Regions from separate parts of the Homo sapiens genome. Here region 1 is linked to region 2. Evidence: fine-mapped expression QTL. Tissue or cell type: whole blood. Region 2 holds a variant in brackets; the other region holds the start of a gene. All regions are shown on one strand. Distances are from middle to middle.

Region 1 (11,042 bases), 43 kb before region 2:
GAGATCTTGTCTGGGTTCATGAAGCTAGAGAGGGCTGCGGCAGAGGCGTTGAGGCCTGGGTATAGCACTGGCACTGAGGTGGGATACCAGCACTTCTCCAGCATGGGCAGGTAGGCAGTCGCTGAAGGTGGGATCAGGTAGAAGGGCAGGCAGAAAGGAGGCTGGTGTGGGTGTGGGCCCAGGAACGGGGAGCTGATCAGGTCACTGCTAGTGAAATGGCCTTCATCATCCGAAAGCTGCATCCGGTTCTTTTTTGTGGGGGGTTCTTCGGACTCTTGCTTAATTGCGCCGATCCTTTCTCCCATCGTGAACCTGCGTCCGTGGTCACTTTTGAAGCACGGCTGCTCACTGCGCAAGTCGCCCTTCTCCGATTCTCCTCCATAGCCACTGTCTGTGTCCGTGTCGCTGCCGCTCTGCTCCCCACTCGAGTGAGCGAAAGTCCGCTGGATGACTGGCACGCAGTTTTTCCCAGGACCTTCCGAACCTTTGGCCGGAGAGCTGGGTTTTTCCTTGAAGTCCATCACTTTGGGAGCTGGGTCTGATGGCTTCCTGGAGGTACCACCCTGCAGCAGCTCCGAGACCACCCGGTGGAGGTGGGTGACAAGCTGCGAAGACTTCAGGTCCCGAGTGTTCTCGTGCTTGGCCAGATACTGAAGCACCTCCCGGGCACATGTCTGGAAACCTGAGCAGAACATCTCTTGACCTGTTTCGACATTTCTCCCTGACAGCTCACCTGGGGAAAGAAAAATCCGAAGGAAAACGTTTCAGAAGGCCTGTGGCGCACCTGGAAACTATACTCCAAAAAACCAGGTGCTTTAGTTTTTGTTAAAAAAAAAAATGCATTTACTGATTTGTGTTCCTAACTCCAAAAGTAGTATGCTCAGAGAAGAATTACACTGAAAAGTATAAATAATTAAAATAATCCATATACTAACACTCAGATAAAATATGATTTTTAATGGTTGCATAATATCCTATCATGGAAATGGACCATAATTAATATGAGATGAGCTGTTTCCCCTCTTTTGGATTGTATAGGTGGTTTGTGAGTTTTCCATGTAAGCGAGGCAGCAAAGAACATTCTGATGTATTTATAAACCTAAGAGTCAATGCATACAACATTGCACCGTGGCAAAATGGGCAGAGGCTGGATAGTTATAAAATGAGGAAAAGAATGAAGAAACAACAATCACCTAAAGTAAACTTATTTTCAATGATTTGTAAAAGTTGCAGTCATGCTGTGACCTTTAATTAGGCTATTTCTATGTCTTCTCCACATATTCTATCCATGATCCTCAAGACATTAGGTATGACCATCTTCCTATTTTGAATGAGGAAACAGGCAGAAGCACTAGCTGGGTTTTTGCAATTTTCATCATACGAGCCTTCGAGAGGAAGGCAGACAAGCATGAAATGAGGGAGTGGGTAGAATAATTCTCCCCAGTCTGTACAGTATTATTTGGAAGAAGTGAGACTAGAAGGTTAGAAGGTTGACTCCGATTATCTGGAAGTCAGTAGAAACGAATGATGAAACTTCAGTGGTTTCGCTAGATTGTGCAATTCACCAAGATACCTAGTGGCTATTCAGGGAACCACATGAAATGCAGGAAAAACTCCTGCTGTATCCTGCCAGGATCACACCACACACCAAGTGACAAGGAAGCAAAGAAACAGGAAAACGCTGGGGCATACCCATGATTTCTTCTCCAATGAAAGAGGGCTAAGAAGACCAACTGTAAAACACCCACAATGCAAATTATAGGTGCCTTGGCATTTTAAAAGGGAGTAGGGAAATCTCCCAGAACCCAGAGACTCTCAAGCTAAAATGCCACAGGAATATCTTATCATTTCACTAATACGTATTCATGCCAGGTGGCACAATGCATTTCAAATGAAAAGTCTGACCTTTTAGGAAAGATAAAACTGCATCTCCCCCAATGAACGTGCATAAGCAATTTGTTGCAGTAATGTTTATTACATCAGATGTTGAGCCCACGGGCTCTCTATTTGCACTCAAACTCTTAAAGAGAGCATAGCCAGAATCAGCACTCACCAGCTTGTAAACCACTCTGCAGGGCAATGATTTTCTGCTGCTGCTGATCAATTAGGTTTGTTAGTGCTTTCACATGCTTCAAGGTAAGTTCAAGAACCACTGCTTTTTCCAAGTGACCCAAAGTCTGGAAGGAAAAGAGCCTTAGTCAGCGGTGAGGTCAGAGAAGTCCCACCTTTGGGACATTTATTAGCAATGAGAAATGAGAAAAGAAAAAAAAAAGTGGAATAGTGTTTCCTGGTTGGCTGTTTTAAGTCTGTAGGTCATGCTTTTAAAAAGATAGACAGATACACTCATATATGTGTGTGTGTGTGTGTGTGTGTGTGTGTGTGTATATATATATAATATATATATATAATTAAATAATTTAAAAAAACGGGTGCCACCTGTCTTTGGAGGCATTTTGGAAGCTGCAACTACCTCAGGAAAATCCTTTGACAGATAAATTTCTCCAGCAGCCTCTGCCGACCTTAACTCAGGGGAATCCAGAGATAACATTTTCCTGCAGTGGTGTCAACTCAGAGAGGGACCTCTATTACGTCTGGCAGCCAAGAGGCTTTCCCTACTTCTTTCCTTACACCCTTTCAGAACTTCCAGCTCATCCAGGCTTTTTTGTTCCTCCCGAAATACTATTTTTTTTTTTTCCATTTCCCCAACCAAAGGCTGCGAAGTAGCCGAGGGCTACTGTCAAGAAAGGACAGGCCGTAAAAATCACACACCAAAGCAAGTCCCCTTATTTGACAACAACAACAAAAAAGGTGGGGGGAGTGGTAGAGGGGAAGGGGTAAATAAAATGTGTGTGTTTCTTGGCGTGTTCCTTTAAGTGAGAAAAACTAGGGAATCCTGAAAATCACCAGAAGTTAAACTCCTGAAAAGGAAGGCCAGTTGGTGTTGGAGCCAACTTGGAGAGGTCCAAGTGGTTCTCGCCTCATTTGCATGAGTCAGCCAGAAAACGCCAGGACTGTGGAGGAGGACCCCACCGCAGAGCCACCCGCCAGCTCTGATCCGCCAGTCTGGTCTGCAGTTCCCCGCGGAACCTGCAGGCGGCGAGTGACCCGCCCGCCCTCTGGGCAAAGGACTGGGTTGGAAAGGGGCCAGCTTCTCACTTACTGTAAGTTTGAGATGTTCGGGTAGGAGATCCTTCAGCTGGGCGATGCACTCGTTAATCCGGTCACGTCTCTTTTTCTCGATGAGCCGGTGCGGCAATTTGTAGGTCTCCTGCAAGACGCACGGGGAGGCGGTGGGCGCTTGGGGAAGGAGATGAGAAGCCTATCCTCCCAGCCCCGCAGCAACAGTCCGGCAGAGGAGCAGAGTAGCAGAGTAGCACCCAGAACCATCGTCTGCCCTTTCTTTTCCAAGTCACTCAGAAGAGGCACCGAGCCCACACCCTGCATCCCCTCGCCAACCTCAAAGCGAGAAAACTTTTCTTGGAAACTCAGCGCGCGCGAGGGGCTGAGCGCAGGGTCCCTAGGGGTGCACTTGCTTACCTTGCTGTCCTCGCTCCGCTTTATTCCCCGTCTTGACTTGTACACTTGGTACATGTGGGCAGGGTACATCCTGCAGGAAGAGAGACCAGGAAGGGTCGTGACTGCTTGCGCACGGCTGCAGGCGTTCTGCCGGGCAAGAACCTCCCGGTGCGCCCGGAGCTGCTCCAAGTTGAGAGTGGCGCATAACATGGGGCTGCAGTTGAGGCTTGAAGGGCCAAGGAGTGCCAACTTACCCTGGTAGGTCTCCGTGCTCCAGTCCCGGTGCTTTGGGCAGGCAGGCGGGGGGTGGTTGCGCGCTGGGGATCCGCTCCATGGCGCGGCGAGCCGGGGCCACTGCGCGCTCCTGTCTGCACTAGCGGAGCGTCTGGATGAGGACTGCCCTGGAGAGGGCTTCGGGGGTCTCTCCGCAGATGTTCCTCTGAGTCTGAGCTCTTTGAAATCCCCTGGGCTGCTGGAATCTTCGGCTTTGAGATGCAGCTTCAGTTGGGGGCGTGCATGGCCCGGTGTCCCCGCGGCCTCTGGCTCCGACTCAGCGCACAGACTGGCGGTGTGTGCTCCCTGCGCGGTCTGTCTGCGCCGTGCGAGCCAAGTGAATGAGAAGTGGGGCGGGCGGGGAGGCGGGAGGGAGCGGGTGAGGGGGGGGCGGTTAGGGCGGAGTGGGGGGGTGGGGGGGCAAGCCGAGGAGTAATGGAGAGGCTGCGGGCTGGGTTAAATGGGAGCGAGTGGGTGGGTTGGAGCTACGTGTTCTACCCTGTGACTCCAGGCACGTCTGGCCACTGCCGGGGAGGGAAGGAGCGACCTGCCCGCCCTCCCCCGGCTTCATCACATGAGTCTCACGTGTTGGACAACGCTCCGGCGGCTGCTAGGGAGCCCCCACCCCCAGCCCCGGCCCCCAGGTGTCTGCGGCTGCGGCCGCCTTTCCCCGAAGAGGGGGTGGCAGCACGACCTGGGTCCTGCCCAGTTGGGTGGGGGGCGCGGAAGCTGGAAGGGACGGGGGTGCTGGGGGAGGGGGAGAAGTTGGTAACGTGGGCGAACCTGCCCCAGGGAAATGAAGTAAGTTCCCGTCTCCTGGGAGGGAACGGGGGAGGACGGATCCGCCCGCGTCTGACTCAAGCCGGGAGAGGAATATCCCCTTGCTAGCTCCAGCCCAGCCCTCTTCCTCCTCCCCCGCCCGGCCCGCTTGGAGGAACCGGCGCGCTGCGGAGGGAGTCGCCCGGCCCCCCAGCCTTCCCCAGAGGCTGGGGTTTCTTTCCGTCCTGGCTTCCCTGCCCCCACTGCTCACCCTCGCGTCCAGGAATTGCCCGCCTTGGGGAGGGACCGAGGGGCGGGGCGGATGTCACCCCATGGGAAGCGGGCCGACGGCCAAGCGCAGGGGCAGCTGAGGCTGCCGCCGAGCACGCCGCGCGCACCTGACCGTGGAGGGTGTGAGCCGAGGGCCCCTCGCTCCCAGGAGCTCCGCTCCTGGGCACAACCTGCGGGCGGGCGGGCACCCGGTTGCGCAGCCCCCTGGGTGCCCCAGTGTCACCCCCTTCCTCCCGGCCAGTCAAGCGCAGAAAGATACCGGGCGCTGTGCCCGGCGCTCCCTCCCTCCTCTGCCCCCTCCGGAGCAGAGGCGCCCCGGTCGCCTCCCCTCCGGCTGCAGCGTTACACAACCGCGGCGGCGGCGCCTGCCCTGCAGCAGCGCAGGGCGTGACGCTTCACGTGGCCGGGCTCAGGTCGTAGCACCGCGGACCGCGAGCCTCTCTGCGTTGACCCAGGGACTGAGACCCCGGGGACGTGGCGTGCCAGCCCGGATCGGCCCTCTCCCTGCCTGTTGGGAAGTTCGGCGGCGCTGTTCGCGGTCTGCACCCAGGGCAGGAGGGATGAGAGAGACAAGAAAAAAAAACCGCCTGTTACAGGGAAATCTTAGCAATCATGCGGTCGACACGTATTTCTTGAGCCCCCTGCTCTGCACTAGGCGCTGCACTAGTTGATGAATCCGACACGGATCCTGCCCTTGAACTTGCAGAACCTCTAGGAAGAGGTTAAATTGAGCAATAAAGGAAAGGCAGCCCTGGGAAAATTGTATCGAGGCCACTGGCTGACAGAGGGGAAAAACAATGAGAACTTGTGTTGCTTTGTGTTTTGTTTTTAATTTCATTGTAACCGAGATGCCTAGGTAGAGAAGCGGGGGAGAAGCTAACCCAAAGCCCCAAGCCCGGGGCGGAAGGACCTCCTCCAGCGGCCCCAGATCTCTGCAATCTCACTTAGGCTGCCGGAGGGCCCCACCCACCTCCCCCGGAAAGGTCCGGGCTCTGTGACCTTCTCACTCAGCCGGGAGCAGGGAAAACAGCTGAAACTCCAATCCCGCGGTGTGAGCAGCGCTGATACAGTCAGAGGAGGGAGCCAGTGGAAACTCATGACTAAAATAAGGCCTGGCTGGGGATTTCACTGACCTCTGCGCTCCCCTGCCCTGCAAGTTCGGGGAGTTGAGAGATGACTGTAAGCCCTTCCCACTGCGCTTCGGGTCAGTCACCCCACTGCTGAGTGACCTGGCTGTGGGAAGGATTGAAAAAAAAATGGGGTCACTGCCGAGACTGGGCGAAGAGTAGTAGCCTCGGGTGCAGTTAGGGGATCAGTCTTAACTGGCAGTGCCCTTGACGACCTAGAGAACTGGCATTCACAAGTTGACCAAACTGGCAGTGTATTTCCTTCAGGTCGCCTTGGAGAGCTCCCGCTTCCTGTTTATATTTCACAAGCGTCAAACTCTTTAGCAAGTGTGAGAAATGCCTCCTTTTCTAACTGCTAACTGGCATGACCTCACTTCGGGGCTCAGAGATCCCTCCCTGCCAGAATGTACTTTTGCTGGCCAAAGGCGGGGACCGGGGTCCGCCCTGGAAACGCGCTTTCAATCTTGGGCGACCTGCTTCATTGTGTGATTTTAATAAGGATGAAGGGCTGTCACGGCTGCGTCAAAACCACGGTTCCAGCAGGAAATAAGCACTGGGAGAGGACAGGACACGTACCCCCTTCCGCCGACACCCCCCACCCGATGGCAGGAGGGAGCCCAAACCTTGCAGCTTCCATGGCTCATGGCTCATGACAATATCATTCTTAAAATTCTTTGAGTTTATCAATACGTTTTGCCCTTACCTGCCCTACAACTGTAAATAACAAAATGTATGCATTTCCTACTTTTTATTTGTTCCGAATGTATTCTCAAGCTTCAAGAACGGTTCCCATCCTACCAGACTTCCACCGTATCAGGATTAAAAAACAAAACAAAACTCTGTTATTCTCTCCATAGCTTATGGCTTTTAAAAAATAATAATTTGAACAAACAATTCCTACGTGGCATAGATCTTTCCATCCTGGAGAATGTTACTATTTCAGTCTGTCATCTTTTGTAGATATTAAAAACCTTTCGTATGTCAATTTCTTTGCTCCTCACCACCACCTTTTAGGCAGGTACTAGTATTAGCTCGATGCATTTGACACGTGTTTATTGTTATTCAATGCCAGACACTGAAATAGGCCCTAGGGATGTATAACATATTCTGTTTGGAAAATTGAGGCTCAAGGAGGCTAAATAACCTGCCCCAGGTTATATAGTCTGGGATTCAGTCTGAGACAGGCCCCCAGGTTTGTTGGACTCCAAAGCTTGTGCTCTTAATCACTATACTTACGGTTGCCTGGTAGGGTTGTTTGGGTTGTGCACCGCTCAACTCCAGGGGGAGCTATTCACATTGCAGTCTGTGTGAGAGCACCCTCTGGAGTTGTGCAATGTGGCACTGAGCAGCTGCACTGGGTAATCCTGCCATTTTGTAGCCGTCCCTGCTGTTTTGTCTCTTCTAAGTGGGGAGAGAACATAATTTCGTACAAGAGAAAGATGGGATCTTTCTCTTCTTTCCTATTGGGACTCAGCATCTTGGTGGCCTTACACTGTGTGCTGAATGAGTCTATACTGTTACTATCTATAGTAACTCCCGGGCCCTTCCTGTGCAAGAATTTAGAGCCCCAAGCTCCCCTATACATCCCCACAACTTGCTTGCTCAGATATCACTTTTTACCTGCTTATGAAGCCTCAAAAATTTTTATCTCAGCTCACGGTAAGAAATACATTTTACATCATGTCTCAATACACACACGTATGTCTTTACACACATCTTAAGTATATTTAAGCATAGGGCAGCCAAAGCTTGGTTGGGCTATAGCAATAAGTGACCGCTACCCTCTCTCCTATACTCCTGAGTAACCATTGCTCTCTTAAAAAAGAAAAAAGAAAAAATTGAGCCACTTAGAAAGAAGTCAATCAGGCCGAGTGTGGTGGCTCATGCCTGTAATCCCAGCACTTTGGGAGGCCAAGGCGGGCGGATCGTCTGAGGTCAGGAGTTCGAGACCAGTCTGGCCAACATGGTAAAACCCCAGCTTTACTAAAAATACCAAAAATCAGCCGGACATAGTGACGGGCACCTGTTATCCCAGCTACTTAGGAGGCTGAGATAGGAGAACTGCTTGAACCCAAGAGGCAGAGGTTGTAGTGAGTGAGCCGAGATCACACCATTGCACTCCACCTTGGGCAACAAGAGCAAAACTCCGTCTCAGGAAAAAAAAAAAAAAAAAAAAAGTCAATCCAATGCATTTCAGACAAAAATTTCACAGAACAATATTTCACTGTTATTATATACATTCTGATACTTTCCAGTTTAGTCTCATCTGTTTTATTAAAAGTATTCAGGTCATGACTTACTAAGTTGATCTCACCACTCACCAATGGATCATGACCTGAAATTTAAAAACTTGCCTGTGGGGCACAGTGGCTCACGCCTGTAATCCTAGCACTTTGGGAGGCCAAATCAGGTGGATCATGAGGTCAGGAGTTCAAGACCAGCCTAGCAAATATGGTAAAACCCCATCTCTACTAAGAAAATTAAAAAATTAGCTGGGCATGGTGGTGCACGCCTGTAGTCCCAGCTACTTGGAAGGCTGAGGCAGGAGAATCGCTTGAACCAAGGAGGCAGAGGTTGCATTGAGCCGAGATCATGCCACTGTACTCCAGCCTGGGCGACAGGGTGAGACTCCGTCTCAAAATAAATAAAAAATAAAAACTTGCCTTACTCTAGAGATAGTGTTGTATTTTTGGCTTGGCCCCACCAGAAAGAGATCAGTGGCATCTGCACACTTGAAGATCTTCCAAATAACTTATAAAAATGTTAAATAAAATTGCTGATTCTGGTTGGACTCAATGGTATAGAGGTCTCCATTCAGGAAAACATCTGTTAATTCCTACCTTTGTTCCCTATTTATAATCAACCTTCTCATTTTCTGCTCTTTTAAAAAATAACGGCATTTAATTCTTTAATTGAGAGGTAAACATAAAATGCAGATCTTAAATGTTTGGTGTATTATTTTTGGTAAATGTACACCTATGTAGCCACTGCCCCACACAAGATACAGAACACTTTTATCACCCCAGAAAGTTTCTTTATATATCATTTTCCAATCAATCCCCCAACCCCCACAATTACTTTCTGATTTCTATCACTATAGATTAACTTTGTCCATTATTGAGATTCGTATAAATGAATGTACTCTTCAAAGTTTCTGTCAATATAGTTTTGAGATCCTACCATATTAGCACATGTATTAGAATTTTGTTCTTTTTTATTGCTGAGTGTATTTCATCATACACATATAGCACAGTTTATCTAGTTCCCTGTTAATGGATATTCAGGTTGTTTCCAGTTTGGGGCTGTTATGAATGAAGCTGCTATCAACATTCATGTTCAAGTTCTTTTGTGAACGTATGTTCTCATTTATGTTGGATAAATATTAGGAGTGGAATTCTTGGGTCACAGATTAAATATATGTGAACTTTATTATAAATTGCCAAACAGATCTCCAAAGAGGTGTTACCATTTTACAATACCACCAACAATGTATGAGAATTCCAGCTGCTCCACAACCTTACTAACGTTTAGGGTAGACAGATTTTTAAATTTTAGCCATTCTAATGGGTATGAAATAATATTTTATTGTCATTTTAATTTGCATTACCCTGATAATGAAGTTGAGCACTCTTTCATATGCTTATTGGCCATTGGTATATCTTATTTTCTGAAGTATTTGTCCACATCTTTTGCTTAGTTTTTAAATTGGATTACTTACCTTTATAATTGTTGTATATGGAAATACAATCCAATTTTCTATATTGACCTCGTATCCTGCAACTTTGCCATTATATTGTTGACTTTTAGGAGTTCCTTATATATTCTAATTACAAGTGCTTTGTCAGAAACACGATTTTATTAATGATGTCCTTTATGAGTAGAATTTTTAGTTTTGGTAGAGTCCAATCTATCAGTATTTTCTTTTACAGCTTGTGCGTGGGTCTTTATCAAAAAATTTTGCATGACTCAAGTCAGAAAGATACTATGTTTTTCTCTAGAAACTTTATAGATAAGATTTTTGTACTTAGGTCTGTGATCTGTCTCAAAGTAATTTTTTGTTTATGGAGTGAAAGAAGAGTCAAGATTCAGTTTTATGTTCCAGCAATACTTAACAAGACTTTCCCTTCCCAATCGGATTTACTTCACCACTTTGTTGAAAATCAATCAACCATATCCGTGTGGTTCTATTTATATACTTTCTGTTTTGTTTCGTTGGTCTGTTTGTCTAGGTTTCACCAATACCACACTATCTTGATTACTGGAGCTTTACAGAAATCTTAAAATTGGATGGTGTAAATCTTCTAACTTCGTTCTTTTTAAAGATTGTTTTGGCACGCCTGTAATGCCAGCTCTTTGGGAGACTGAGGTGGGCAGATCACATGAGGTGAGGAGTGTGAGACCAGCCTGGCCAACATAGTAAAACCCCGTCTCTGCTAAAAATACAAAAATTAGTCGGTCATGGTGGTGGGCACCTGTAATCCCAGCTACTCAGGAGGCTGAGGCAGGAGAATCGCTTGAACCCAGGAGGCGGAGGCTGCAGTCAGCCAAGATCACACCACTGCACTCCAGCCTGAGTGAGATCATCTAAAAAAAAAAGATTGTTTTGACTATTTTGGGTTCTTTGCATTACCATATAAATTTTAGATTCAGCTTTTTTCTTTCTTCAAAGAAGCTTGCTAGAATTTCTATGGGAATTGCATCATACCTATAGATCAGCTTAGGAAAAATGAACATTTAAACAATATTATGCCTTCTTATCTATGAATATGGTATAGCTTTACATTTTTTTTTATGATGTCATCTTCATTTCTTTCAGCAATATTTGTAGTTTTCTATGGAGAGGTCTTACACATCTTTTGTTAGATCTGTTCCTAGCTATTTGATTTTTTTAAATATGCCTGTAAATTTTAAAACATTTCCCAATTGTTTATTGAGTGTATATAGAAATGCAGTCAATTTTTGTATCTATAACCTTGCTAAATTCATTTATTAGTTTGAGTAGTATTTTTGGTAGGGTTCTTCACATACGCAAACATGTTGTTTGTGAACAATGACAGCTTTACTTCTTTTCTGATC
Region 2 (11,770 bases):
TTGCCTCAGCCCCCTGAGTTGCTGGGACTATAGGTACGTGCCACCATGCCCGGCTGATTTTTGTATTTTCAGTAGAGACAGGGTTTCGCAATGTTGCCCAGGCAAATCTCGAACTCCTGGCCTCAAACAATCCACCTGCCTTGGCCTTCCAAAGTGCTGGGATTCCAGGCATGAGTCACTGCACCTGGCCTCATTACTATTCTTTTTTAGAAATGCCACCATTGCAGTTTTTATGCCCACTTTCACCTAAGTGTTTTTTTTTTTTTTTTACAGGCTCATATCTGACCAATCCTCATTGTTGTTTAATAGACAAGATTTAAATTTTCACCTGTAAAGGCCTTTAAAATATTTTGTAGCTTTATTGTATTGTGATAAGAATTATGCCTTATTTTTATTTTTATTTTTAGAGACAGGGGTCTTGCTATGTTGCCCAGACTGGCCTCAAACTCCTGGGCTCAAGTGATCCTCCAGCCTTAGCTTCCCAAGAAGCTGGGACTATAAGCACATACCACTATGCCCAGCTAGAATTATGTTTTAAAGCACTTAACAGTTAAAATGTTTTCCTCCTAGAACATTTAAGTGCAATTGACACGGGAAGATGTGCTATATTCACCTGGTGGCATCTCATATCCTCTGGCTTACAACCACATATCTCTGACAGCGTGTTCAGCATTTTTTGGGTCACACTTTTTAAAGAGTAAAATCAGTTCTTCTCATAATGTTCTAGTATTACCTTTTAAAAAATGGTTTTCATTTATTACATATGTATTTTTTTAAGAGACAGAGTCTTGTTATGTTGCCCGGGCTGGAGGGCAGAGCCTATTCACAGGTACTATCACAGCACACTGCAGCTCTGAACTCCTGGACTGAAGCGACCTCCCACCTCAGGCTCCCGAGTAGCTGCGACTGTAGGTGCACCACCGCACCTGGCTAGTATTACCTCCTTCTTCTTCTTCTTTTTTTTTTTTCTTTTGAGACAGAGTTTTGCTCTTGTTGCCCAGGCTGGAGTACAATGGCACAATCTCAGCTCACTGCAGCCTCCACCTCCTGGGTTCAAGCAGTTCTCCTGCCTCAGCCTCCCGAGTAGCTGGGATTACAAGTGCATGCCACCAAGCCTGACTAATTTTTTTTGTATTTTTAGTAGAGATGGGGTTTTGCTATGTTTGCCAGGCTGGTCTCAAACTCCTGGCCTCAGGTAATCCACCTGCCTTGGCCTCCCAAAGTGCTGAGATTACAGGCATGAGCTACTGTGCCCAGCCAGCTAGTATTACCTTCTTATCAATAGAATGATAATGTTTGATTAAAATGATCTGGTTATATCAGACCATATGGTTCACTAAAATACCAACCTAAAAATATATATGCCTTCAATTTTCTTGTGGTTCAATAATTTTATGAGAACCTAAATGCTTCCTTTTTTTCCCACTTCACTGAGAAAATTTTATCTCATGCAGTCTTTGTTTTACTGTATACTAAAGGTCAACTAATGGCCTACAGTTCTACATTAAGAGCAAAATGATGGCTGTATTTACCAAAACCTAGCATAAGACCTAACAATTTATGAATGTTTAATGAATATTTTTGAAATTCATAAGTGAATATTCTAATATAGATTATAGTTTACTTTTGTAAAATAACAGCACTTTGATAGATCTTTAAGTAGTTAAGTATGATTGCTTTAATCTTACTACTAAAAACCATTTTCTATCATATTTGTAATCTAAGTTTAATGGGTTGTAGTGCCTTTTAGCTTAAGTGCAGTGGATTGGAAACAGCATTTTTAAGGGTGGGTGTCAGAAGACCTAGAGTTTTCTCAAGCTAATGGGAGGAAGGAACTGTTGTCTTTAAGTAATGAATCATAGATTCTTTTTTTTTTTTTTTTTTTTTTTTTTTAGACGGAGTTGGAGTTTTGCTCTTGTTGCCCAGGCTGGAGTGCAATGGCGTGATTTCAGCTCACTGCAACCTCCACCTCCCGGGTTCAAGCAATTCTCCTGCCTCAGCCTCCCAAGTAGCTGGGATTACAGGTGCCCGCCACCATGCCCGGCTAATTTTTTGTATTTTTAGTAGAGATGGGCTTTCGCCATTTTGGCCAGACTGGTCTCAAACTCCTGACCCCAGGTTATCTGCCTGCCTCGGCCTCCCAAACTGCTGGGATTACAGGCATGAGCCACCATGCCTGGCCAAATCATGGATTCTTTAAAGTGATGTCAAGAAGATAATTCTTGAAAGGATCAAAGGATGGCTTCACAAGTCACCAAACATTTCCCTTAGGTGAGGGTCTCCAGACAGAATGTGGAATGAAACACAGTTTTGACAAGCAAACCTCTTAGAATTGTGTGATGGTCTGTAACATTTGGTGAACCATGCCTCCTGGTACTTACACCCTTTCATAACCCGCTCCCTTGAATCTGGACTGGCCCTGGGGCTCATTTTAACCAATGGACTGTGATGGAAGTAATGCAAGCTCCAGGCCTAAGCCTGTCAACTTCTGCTTTTCACTCTTGGAACCAGCCACCATGCTCTAAGAAGCCCAAGTCACATGGAGGGTGGGTGTCAGAAGACCACACAGAGCAGTGCCAAGGCACTCCAAGAGTGAGCCATCTTGAATGTATCACACCAGACTGAGCCCTTAAATCATGGGTGGTCAAACAGTGCCTTTCAGTGAAATCTGGTCCGCCATCTGATTTCTGTAAATCAAGTTTTATTGGAACACAGCTACGCCCTTTGATTTATATATTATCTATGACTACTTTGTCACAACAATGGTATGGCTGAATCATCATGCCAGTTGACCATATGGTCCACAAGGCCTAATGTATCTGTTATTTGGTCCTCTATGGGAAAGTTTGCTGAGCCCTGCCCTAGATGGCTGCAGCACCAGCTGGCTTCATGTGATGAAGAAATGCCAACCTGAGCCCAATCCACCCACAGACTCATGAGCCACAGTACAATGGTTGCTGTCTTAAACCATTAAGTTTTGGGATGCTCTGTTATATAGCCACAATAGTGACAAATTATACAATCCAATATCTGAATTGTATAAGCTTGATGATTTCATAGTTTAAATTTTTATGCTCTTTTCTTTTGTTTTAACTCTTTGTAAGCTTTATTTAACATTTTCTAAGTTGTGTTATCCATGTGTCATTGAAACTTCTCTTACCAAGGCAACCTTCTCCTTGTTGTTACATTCAATGGAGGTTTTTCAGTCTTCACCTCATTTGACTCTTGACCAACATTTGACACTGTTGAACTTCTTGGTTCCTGAGATATTTTTCCCTTTTATTCAGTTACAGCATTATCTCCAAGCTTTCTTTGGTTTTACAGGAAGCTCCTTATCAATTTTCTTTTGGAAATTCTGCCCAACACTTAATGTTAGAGTTTCTCAGAATTCTGTCTTAGATTTCATTCAATATTCAAAAGATATATATTTTTTAATTCATAAGTGAATAATCTACATATAGATTATACTTTATATCATTTCTATGTAGAAATACAAATTATTTTAAATTATAATTTGTATTTTTACATAGAAATTATATAAACTATAACATAATGTACTTTATGCCAGGCATTTTTCTAGGTACATTGGATACCTTAATAAACAAAACAGGCAAACAAAAGTCGTTCCTGCCCTTGGATAAATTTTTAAATGTACACATAATAAAATAAATTTTTGCAAAAGCTAGAAGTTGATAAGTGCTTTAGAAAAGAAAATCAACAGGGAAGGGGAAGGGAAGTAGGGAGTACGCAGGGGAAGGGGAGGGCAATTTAAAGAAGGGTACTCAGAATAGGCCTTTTTGAGATGATGATATTTGAGCAAAGCCTTAAAAAAGGCAAAAGACCTGACATGTACCTATGTCAGCATTTCTGGCAGAGAGAGTAGTATTTCAGAGACCTGAAAGCAAGGAGCATGTCTGAAAGGTTTGAAGACAAGAAGGTTGTCCCCTGTGGTGGAAACGAGTGAACATCAGGAGATGAAGTTGAAGAAATCTCAGGCTCCCGGGGTCCTGTAGGACCTTGTAAATTATGGTCAGGCATTTGTGTTTTCTGAGTGAGATGAAGGGTTACAGGGGAATTTTGAGAAGCATGAAGTCATCCGATCATCAAAAGAATCACTGTAGCTGCTGAACTGAGAAGAGAACAGAGGTGGCAGGAAGGGCGATAGAGAGACCTGCTAGAAGCTCTGGGAGTGACCAAGGGCAGCAGTGGAAACAAAGAGGAGTGACCATCTCTGGACAGTCGTACAGACTCATGCTTCCATGGTTCCTATTACCATTCACATGCTGATACTCCCCGGTCTATGTTCTAGCCCAGATGTCTCTCCTGAGTTTCAGACCCACATATTCCAAATACCTGTTTGTCTTCCCTTTTTTTTCCATGTTCCACAGGCACTTCAGTTTCTACGCTTTCCTCTAAAGCCTTTTTCTCCTCCCATGCTCCCTCTATGTCACTACTAAAGCCATGCAGCTACACCTTTCTATGAAGGCATTATCTTTAAAAGGTCACTGTTAAAACATATGTTAGTGGAGAATCTGTGCTGGTCCACAGACATTTTGGTTTCCACTAACACATCATTATGGTTTAGTTTATCAGCTTTTCTGCCTATGATGGTGGCTTTAAGGATTGGATATAGGATCAGCAGGTTTTAATTGGCATAGGAAGATGGAATCCTGCCTTAGAAGTCAGTTTAGGGCAGGGTGTACCATATTGGTGGGATGCTGAACACCCTGAGGATGGAAGATGGGAGTTACTGAGGGAATTCCTTTCATTTCACAGTTTTACCCAATACAGGAACTGTCACTGGAACACATAATTCTGAAATTGTCAGTTTTGTTACAAATAGTGCACTTATCACGTAACCGTCGTGCAAATAAAATTCTGTATATGTTATAGAATTTTAATATGTGAATTCCATTTTCTTCCATCTCTCTTAGGAATTGTTTTGTCCACTTGCCATAATAATTTTAGAATTTTGCATTCATCCTATTGACTTGTAGCAAAGGCAATACTTTCACTCTGGAAAACATTTAGTCTGAAGGTTGTGTGACTCCTTTTTCCACGATCTTTGTTTTTTCATAATTCGTGTGTAAAGGAGTTTACACATAAATATCTTAATCTTTTATTTCTAACCCTTACAAGAGTTTTTTTTTTAAATAATAGATACAAAGGAAATAAGTTTTCCTAAATTATATTTTACCACATCATACTTGTATGTGGGA[A/G]CAAGTCTTATAAAAATCATTAATGTGAAACTAACTAGGCCAAGGAGAGCTATTATTTTTTATTAGAAAATTAACTTCAAAATGAATGTTTAAATACAAGCTTCACATAGTTAAAAATGCAATTAAGGCTGATTCATTGACACTTGAAAGCTCTTTTTATATATTTATCATTTATTCAACAAATATTTATCAAAGGATTGCTCTGTGCCAGGCAGTATGCTTGCACTTGGGGTGGAGCATAAACAAAGACAAGGACCCTGCACTGTGGAGCTTAATTCTAAAGGGAAAAGTAGACAAAAAATAAGTTAAAAAATAAATTACTGCTTGCAAAAAGTGCTAGGAAGGAAATAAACCAAATGGAGAGAGAGAGAGAGAGAGAGAAAGGAGAGGCTACTTGAAAGAAGGTCTTTCTGAGAAGATGAATGTGAGTTGAGACCTGAAACCACAAAGGTGAGGTTGAGTCAGCCATGAGAACTGAGAAATGCCTCCCAGCAGAGGGACCAGCAGGAGCAAAGGCCCAGAGGCAGGAAAGGCTTCATGTTCCAGAAACAGAAAGGAGGCCAAAGTGGCTTCAGTGAAGTGACCAAAAATGAGAGGCACCAGACAGGCTGGAGGGAGGGGCAGAAGCCAGATCACGCAAGACTCTGTAAGCCTTGGGAAGGAATTTGGATTTCATTCTGAATGTGATGAGAGGACAATGAAGGGCTTATGAAAAGGAATGATTTGACCTGATGCTCTCCTTTTTGTTTTTTTTTTTTTGTTTTGAGATGGAGTCTTGCATTGTCACCTAGGCTGGAGTGCAGTGGTGCGATCTCCACTCACTGCAACCTCCGCCTCCCAGCTTCAGGAGATTCTCCTGCGTCAGCCTCCCAAGCTGCTGGGATTACAGGTATGCACCACCAGGCCTGGCTAATTTTTGTATATTTAGTAGAGACGGAGTTTCACCATGTTGGCCAGCCTGGTCTCAAACTCCTGACCTCAGGCGATCCACCATCCTCGGCCTTCCAAAGTGCTGAGATTATAGGCATGAGCCACAATGCCCAGCTCTCCGGTTTTTTATTTATTTTATTTTTTAATTTTTAATTTTTATTTGTTTTAATTGTGGGAAAATACACATAACATAAAATTTACCATTTTAACCATTTTTAAGTGTACAATTCAGCAGTATTTTGTACATTCTCGTTGTGCAACTGTCACCACTGTCCATCTCAAGTACTTGTTTCATCTTCCAATGGAAATTCTGTCCCTCTTAAACACTAACTCCCCATTCTCTGCCTCCCCTCCCACACCATCTAATCACAATTCTACTTTCTGTCTCTGATTTGCATATTCTGGGTACCTCCAATAAGTGGATCATATAATATCTGTAATTTTACCTGGCTTATTTCACTTAGCATCATGTTTTCAAAGTTCACTCATGCTGTAGTATGTGTCAGAATTTCATTACTTTTTAAGGATAAATAATATTTCATTGTATACACACACTACATTTTGTTTATTCATCTGTTGATGGACACTGTCTTCTGCTTTTTAATGAAGGATTAATTATTTCAATGCTTTTTGTGGGAAGAAACAACAATATGAAAAATAGTTGTTGAATGGAGTTGTGTCTGATAGGATTTATACTCAAAATGATAATTGTGTAAACAAGGTATCAGTTTGTTTTTCTCTCACATAGAGGTAGATGGTCCAGGACCAGTATGATGGCTCCATACTTGTCAGGTTGTCAGGGACCCAGAATCCCTTCTGGCTTTCTCCTCCATCATCTTTAGCACAAGGGATTCCCATTCAAGGTCATCTCATGGTCACATGATAACTACAACAGCTCCCACAACCACATACGACCTCCAGGCAGCAGGAAGATGAAAGAGGGTAATACAAAATGGTGGCCAAAGACAAAATGTGCCACAACCGAGTGGTATGCTCGTGTAATTTGTTTTTAGAGATGGGGTCTTGCTATACTGCCAGGCTGGACTCAAACTGCTGGTCTCAAGCAATCCTCCTGCCTCAGCCTCCTGAATCACGTGCCACTGCATCTGGCACTGAGTTATATTCTTTAAAGAACTCTCCTAGAAGCTCATTGGCTGCCCTCACCTGCAATGGAGGCTGGAAATCTAGACTTATAGCCGTGCACCTTACCACATCCAGCATTATAGGGAGGTCTCTTCAGAAGGAAGGAAAGAAGGAAGAAAGAAATTCCTGATTGTCTCGGAAATAACAGAAGTGTTCTTGGTATCTTGGCATTTTGGCTGCTTGTGATGGTTGAATTTTAAAATTATAGCAATGGCTCCGTGGAAAATACACCATTTTTTCTTTTTCTTTTTTTGATACGGAGTCTCAATTTGTTGCCAGCCTGGAGTGCAGTGGCACAATCTCAGCTCACTGCAACCTCTGCCTCCTGGGTTCAAGCGATTATCCTGCCTCAGCCTCCCAAGTAGCTGGGACTACAGCCGCGTGCCACCACGCCCAGTTAATTTTTGTATTTTTAGTAGAGACAGGGTTTCACCATGTCGGCCAGGTCAGTCTCGATCTCTTGACTTCATGATCTGCCCGCCTCGGCCTCCCAAAGTGCTGGGATTACAGGCATGAGTCACCGCGCCCGGCCGACATCATCCTTTTAAGAGGAGACAGTGTGTGGGAATTAAGTTGCCTTGCTGTTAACTTTTCAATTGGCCCATAGGCGATTTCCCTGTCCTATCTACTTATATTTGAAATCCACTATTAAATGATAGAACTCAGAGGTACATGTTGTGCTTATTGGCTAAAGAAATCTTTTTTTGTGTGCAGTTGCAGTTGGTTTTCTTTTCTTTTTTTGTTAAAAATTTAAACTTAAAAAGGACTAAAGTCACTTCTGGAATTTCAGGAGTGGGTGGAGGTTTAAACAAATAACAACAGAAAAAATGAGAGTGAGTATGTCCAATCAGATGCACTTTCCTCTAGTTAAAAATAAATAAAAATACTAGTTTTTTCATGTTTTCTTCACCCACTTAAGAAGCATAAAATACATTTTTTCTTTACTTTTGTATTAACGTATGGTTTACATATAGTAAAGTCCAAAAATCTTAAATGTAAAGCTTCTCTGAATTTTTACATTTTACATTTACATTATACACCTGTATAGTTGCCAACTGGATCAAAATATAAGCAATTTCCTGCATCTAGAAGTTTCCCTCAAATCCCCAACCAATTTCCCCCCCAAAATGCAACTACTCTTCTGGTTCTTCTTATTATAAGTTAATTTTGTCTGTTCAATAAAATACATGTATGTATGTATGTATGTATGTATTTATTTATTTATTTATTTATTTATGTTTTAGAGACAGAGTCTCACTCTGTCATCTAGACATTACCTCGGCTCACTGCAGCCTCGACTTCCAGGCTCAAGTGATCCTCCCACCTCAGCACCCCCGCCACCCCGAGCAGCTGGGACTACAGCCACACATCACTATCATCCCTGGCTGATTTTTGTATTTTTTTATAGAGACGGGGTTTTGCCATGTTGCCCAGGCTGGTCTCGAACTCCTGGGCTGAAGAGATCCTCCTACCTTGGCCTCCCAAAGTGCTGTGATTACAGGCGAGACCCACCATGCCCAGCCTAAAATACGAGTTTTCAAACTTTTTATTTGGAAGCTTGAAGAAAGGTTGCAAAAACAGTACAAAGAGCATCCTTATTCCCTTTACCCAGATTTACCTGTTGTTAACATTTCTTTTCTTTTTTTCTTTTTCTTTTTTTTTTTTTTCTCACCAAGACCAGGCTCTCAAACCTGCTGTTAACATTTTTCTCTCCTTTATAATTTGCTCCTTTTCTCTCTCTCCCTGTCTCCACCTCCGTTCCCTCCAGCCACACATACTTTTTTCTGAAGTATTTGAAGTATTGAGGTGTGTTTGTTTTTGTTTGTGGTAGAGATAAGGTCTCACTGTGTTCCCCAAGCTGATCTCAAACTCCTGGCCTCAAGAGATCCTCTGACCTCAGCCTCCTAAAGCACTGGGACTACAGGCATGAGCCACCACACCTGGCTGAGGTGTTAATATAATATTTTCATCTAGTGTACCACCCATGCTCCAGTTTTGTCAATTGACTCAATAATTTTCTTTTTTTTAGCATGTTTTCCTCTTCAATACAGGATCTAGTCTAGGATCTGGCATTGTATTTAGTTGTTACATCTCTTTAGACTCCTTTAATCTGAAACAATTTTTCAGCTTTCCTTTGTCTTTTATGACAGTGACATTTTTGAAAAATACAGGCCTTCTCTTTTTAAACTAGAGTATTTCTCATTTTGGTTTAGTCTGATGTTTCCTTGCTATTAGATTCAGGGTCTCCACACCTAGCCATAATACCACACATCTGCCCCATGCTGGTGCTGTTAATTTTGATAATCTGGTCAAAGCTTTGTCTGATTTTTCCACTGAATACTTACTATTTTTCTTTTACACTTAACAATCTGTGGGTAGACATTTAAAGATCATGCAAATGCCCAGCTCTTCATCAAACTCACCCTCCTAGATTTAGCATCCATGAACAATTCTTGTCTGTATCAATATTTACTTTGTCGATTGCAAAAAATGATGATTTTCCAATGGCCACACTCCATTTTTAACTTCGTCTCAGGACGACTTTAGGATTTAGAACATCCTAAAAAGAACAAACCAACGGCCAATTCCTAATTTCTCTTAGCATGGTCTCTTTATTCTGCTTGCTGCTATATACTTGAAGTTACCCTTCTCCCATTTGTCTCTCTTTCCTGGTTACTTCAGCTGCAGATTTCATCATGGCAGATTTCACCTATGGAAGAATTTTCCAGTAATCATGCTTTTGAGTACACCTGGGCATTTGATATCTGCTGTCTTTAGACCCTTAGAAGATGAAGTACTTCATCTTTCATTTAGAAAAATAACCACACACTCTCATACGATTATTATTCTGAAGACAGAAATCCAAATTATTGATTAGTGGTTCTTGGGGGAGGGGGAAGATATGGTTCCAATTAAATATGATGTTTCAGATAAACACCAGCATTAGAAACCACTAGAAGTGATAGGGAAAATATGACATTGATGTTTTTAAATGGAAGCTGTTCTCATTAGGGGCATGATATGCAAATTGCCAGTAAAACATCAGAGATAACAAACATTTTATTTGTTTTCTCAATTACAGAAGGTTGCCTTATTTTTCTATTCCTTAAAAATATGAATATGTTATAATTTTTCATAGAAATTCTCCCTAGGCACATATCTTTCTGCCCAGGGACAGCTACAATGGCAACTCTAGTAGTTCCATCCTTAAACCTTATCTTCATACCTGTAATCTAGACTGGAGGCCACTGAAGTGCAGGCTAATGCTTCTGGTTGGGGACCTGTAGGAGGCAGTGGTTGGATTTTAAACCAGTTACCAGGAAATGATCTTCCTCATCTCAAAAATCAACGATTCCACTTTGGGAAAGAGTTTTGCAGTTTTCCAAAAGTTAAACATAAAACATATGACCAGCAATGCTATTCCTAGGTATCTACCCATGACAAATGAAAATGTGTCCACATAAGGACTTGCACATGAATGTTCACAGATGCTTTATTCATAATAGGCCCAAACTGAAAACAACCTAATGTCCATCAACTGAAGAATAGATAGACATAATGCGGCTTATCCATGAATGGAATTCTTTTCAGCACCAAAAAAGAACAAATTACTTACACATGCTACATCGTGGATGAACCTCAATAATATTATGCTGGCTGGGCAAGGTGGCTCATGCCTATAATCCCAGCACTTTGGGAGGTTGAGGCAGGAGGATCACTTGAGCCCAGGAATTTGAGACAAGCCTGGGCAACATGGCAAGATCCCATCTCTACAAAAAATAAGAAATTAGCCAGGTGTTGTGGCACATGCCTGTAGTCCCAGGAGGCTGAGGCAGGAGGATAGCTTGAGCCTAGGAGGTCAAGGCTGCAGTGAGCTGTGATTGCACCACTGCACTCTAGCCTGAGTGACAGAGTGAAATCCTGTCAAAAAAAAAAAAATAGTATGACAAGTAAAAGAAGTCAGACACAGGCAAGCATGTATTGTATGATCCCATTTCTATGAGATATCCAGAAAAAGCAGATTTATAAAGACAGAAAGTAGATTAGCAGTTGTCTGGGTTATTAGGGCTGGGAACAAAGATCACCTATAAATGGGTATGAGGGATCTTATTGCAGGGATGAAACAGTTTTTAAACTGATTTATGATGATAGTTGTATGGCTCAGTGAAGTTACTAAAAATAATTATATTGTGCACTAAAAATGGGTGAATGTTATCCTATGTAAAATATATCTTAATAAAACTGTAATATGTCACATAGTCAATATCCAGATCAGCACCTGGATAAAGTGTAATATTTACTGTTCTCTGGAAGATAAGACATGTTTGGCTGGACCAATGTTGAAACATTTCAGCTGGGCAGAATGGAAGGGGAAATTTATTCTAAAATTACTGATAGGCCTGGATTTATCTGTGACAATTATATTTTGAAAGGCTCTCAATATCTCTATATTAAGAGGAATTAAGGTTTCTAAAACC

What was found.
Region 1: it holds the start of BHLHE40, and the variant in region 2 is fine-mapped to the expression of BHLHE40 in whole blood (TOPMed, PIP above 0.99).

Annotation. Positions count from the first base shown.
Region 1 is chr3:4,972,527-4,983,568 of GRCh38, reverse strand. BHLHE40 (basic helix-loop-helix family member e40) reads right to left here and starts at 4,132. Exons shown (of 5, transcript NM_003670.3): 1 at 3,771-4,132; 2 at 3,538-3,607; 3 at 3,161-3,268; 4 at 2,054-2,177; 5 at 1-733. The coding sequence starts at 3,850. It overlaps BHLHE40-AS1 (BHLHE40 antisense RNA 1), which reads left to right and starts at 3,608. Exons shown (of 3, transcript NR_125916.1): 1 at 3,608-3,774. RefSeq lists enhancers at 1-259, 260-819, 3,149-3,743, 3,851-4,000, 5,301-5,420 and 3 more and silencers at 4,151-4,210, 4,421-5,190.
Region 2 is chr3:4,929,507-4,941,276 of GRCh38, reverse strand. All of the region lies in intron 1 of BHLHE40-AS1 (BHLHE40 antisense RNA 1), which reads left to right. Among named protein-coding and RNA genes, the nearest start is that of BHLHE40, 44 kb to the left of the region's middle. The variant A/G (reference allele first, on the strand shown) is at 5,220.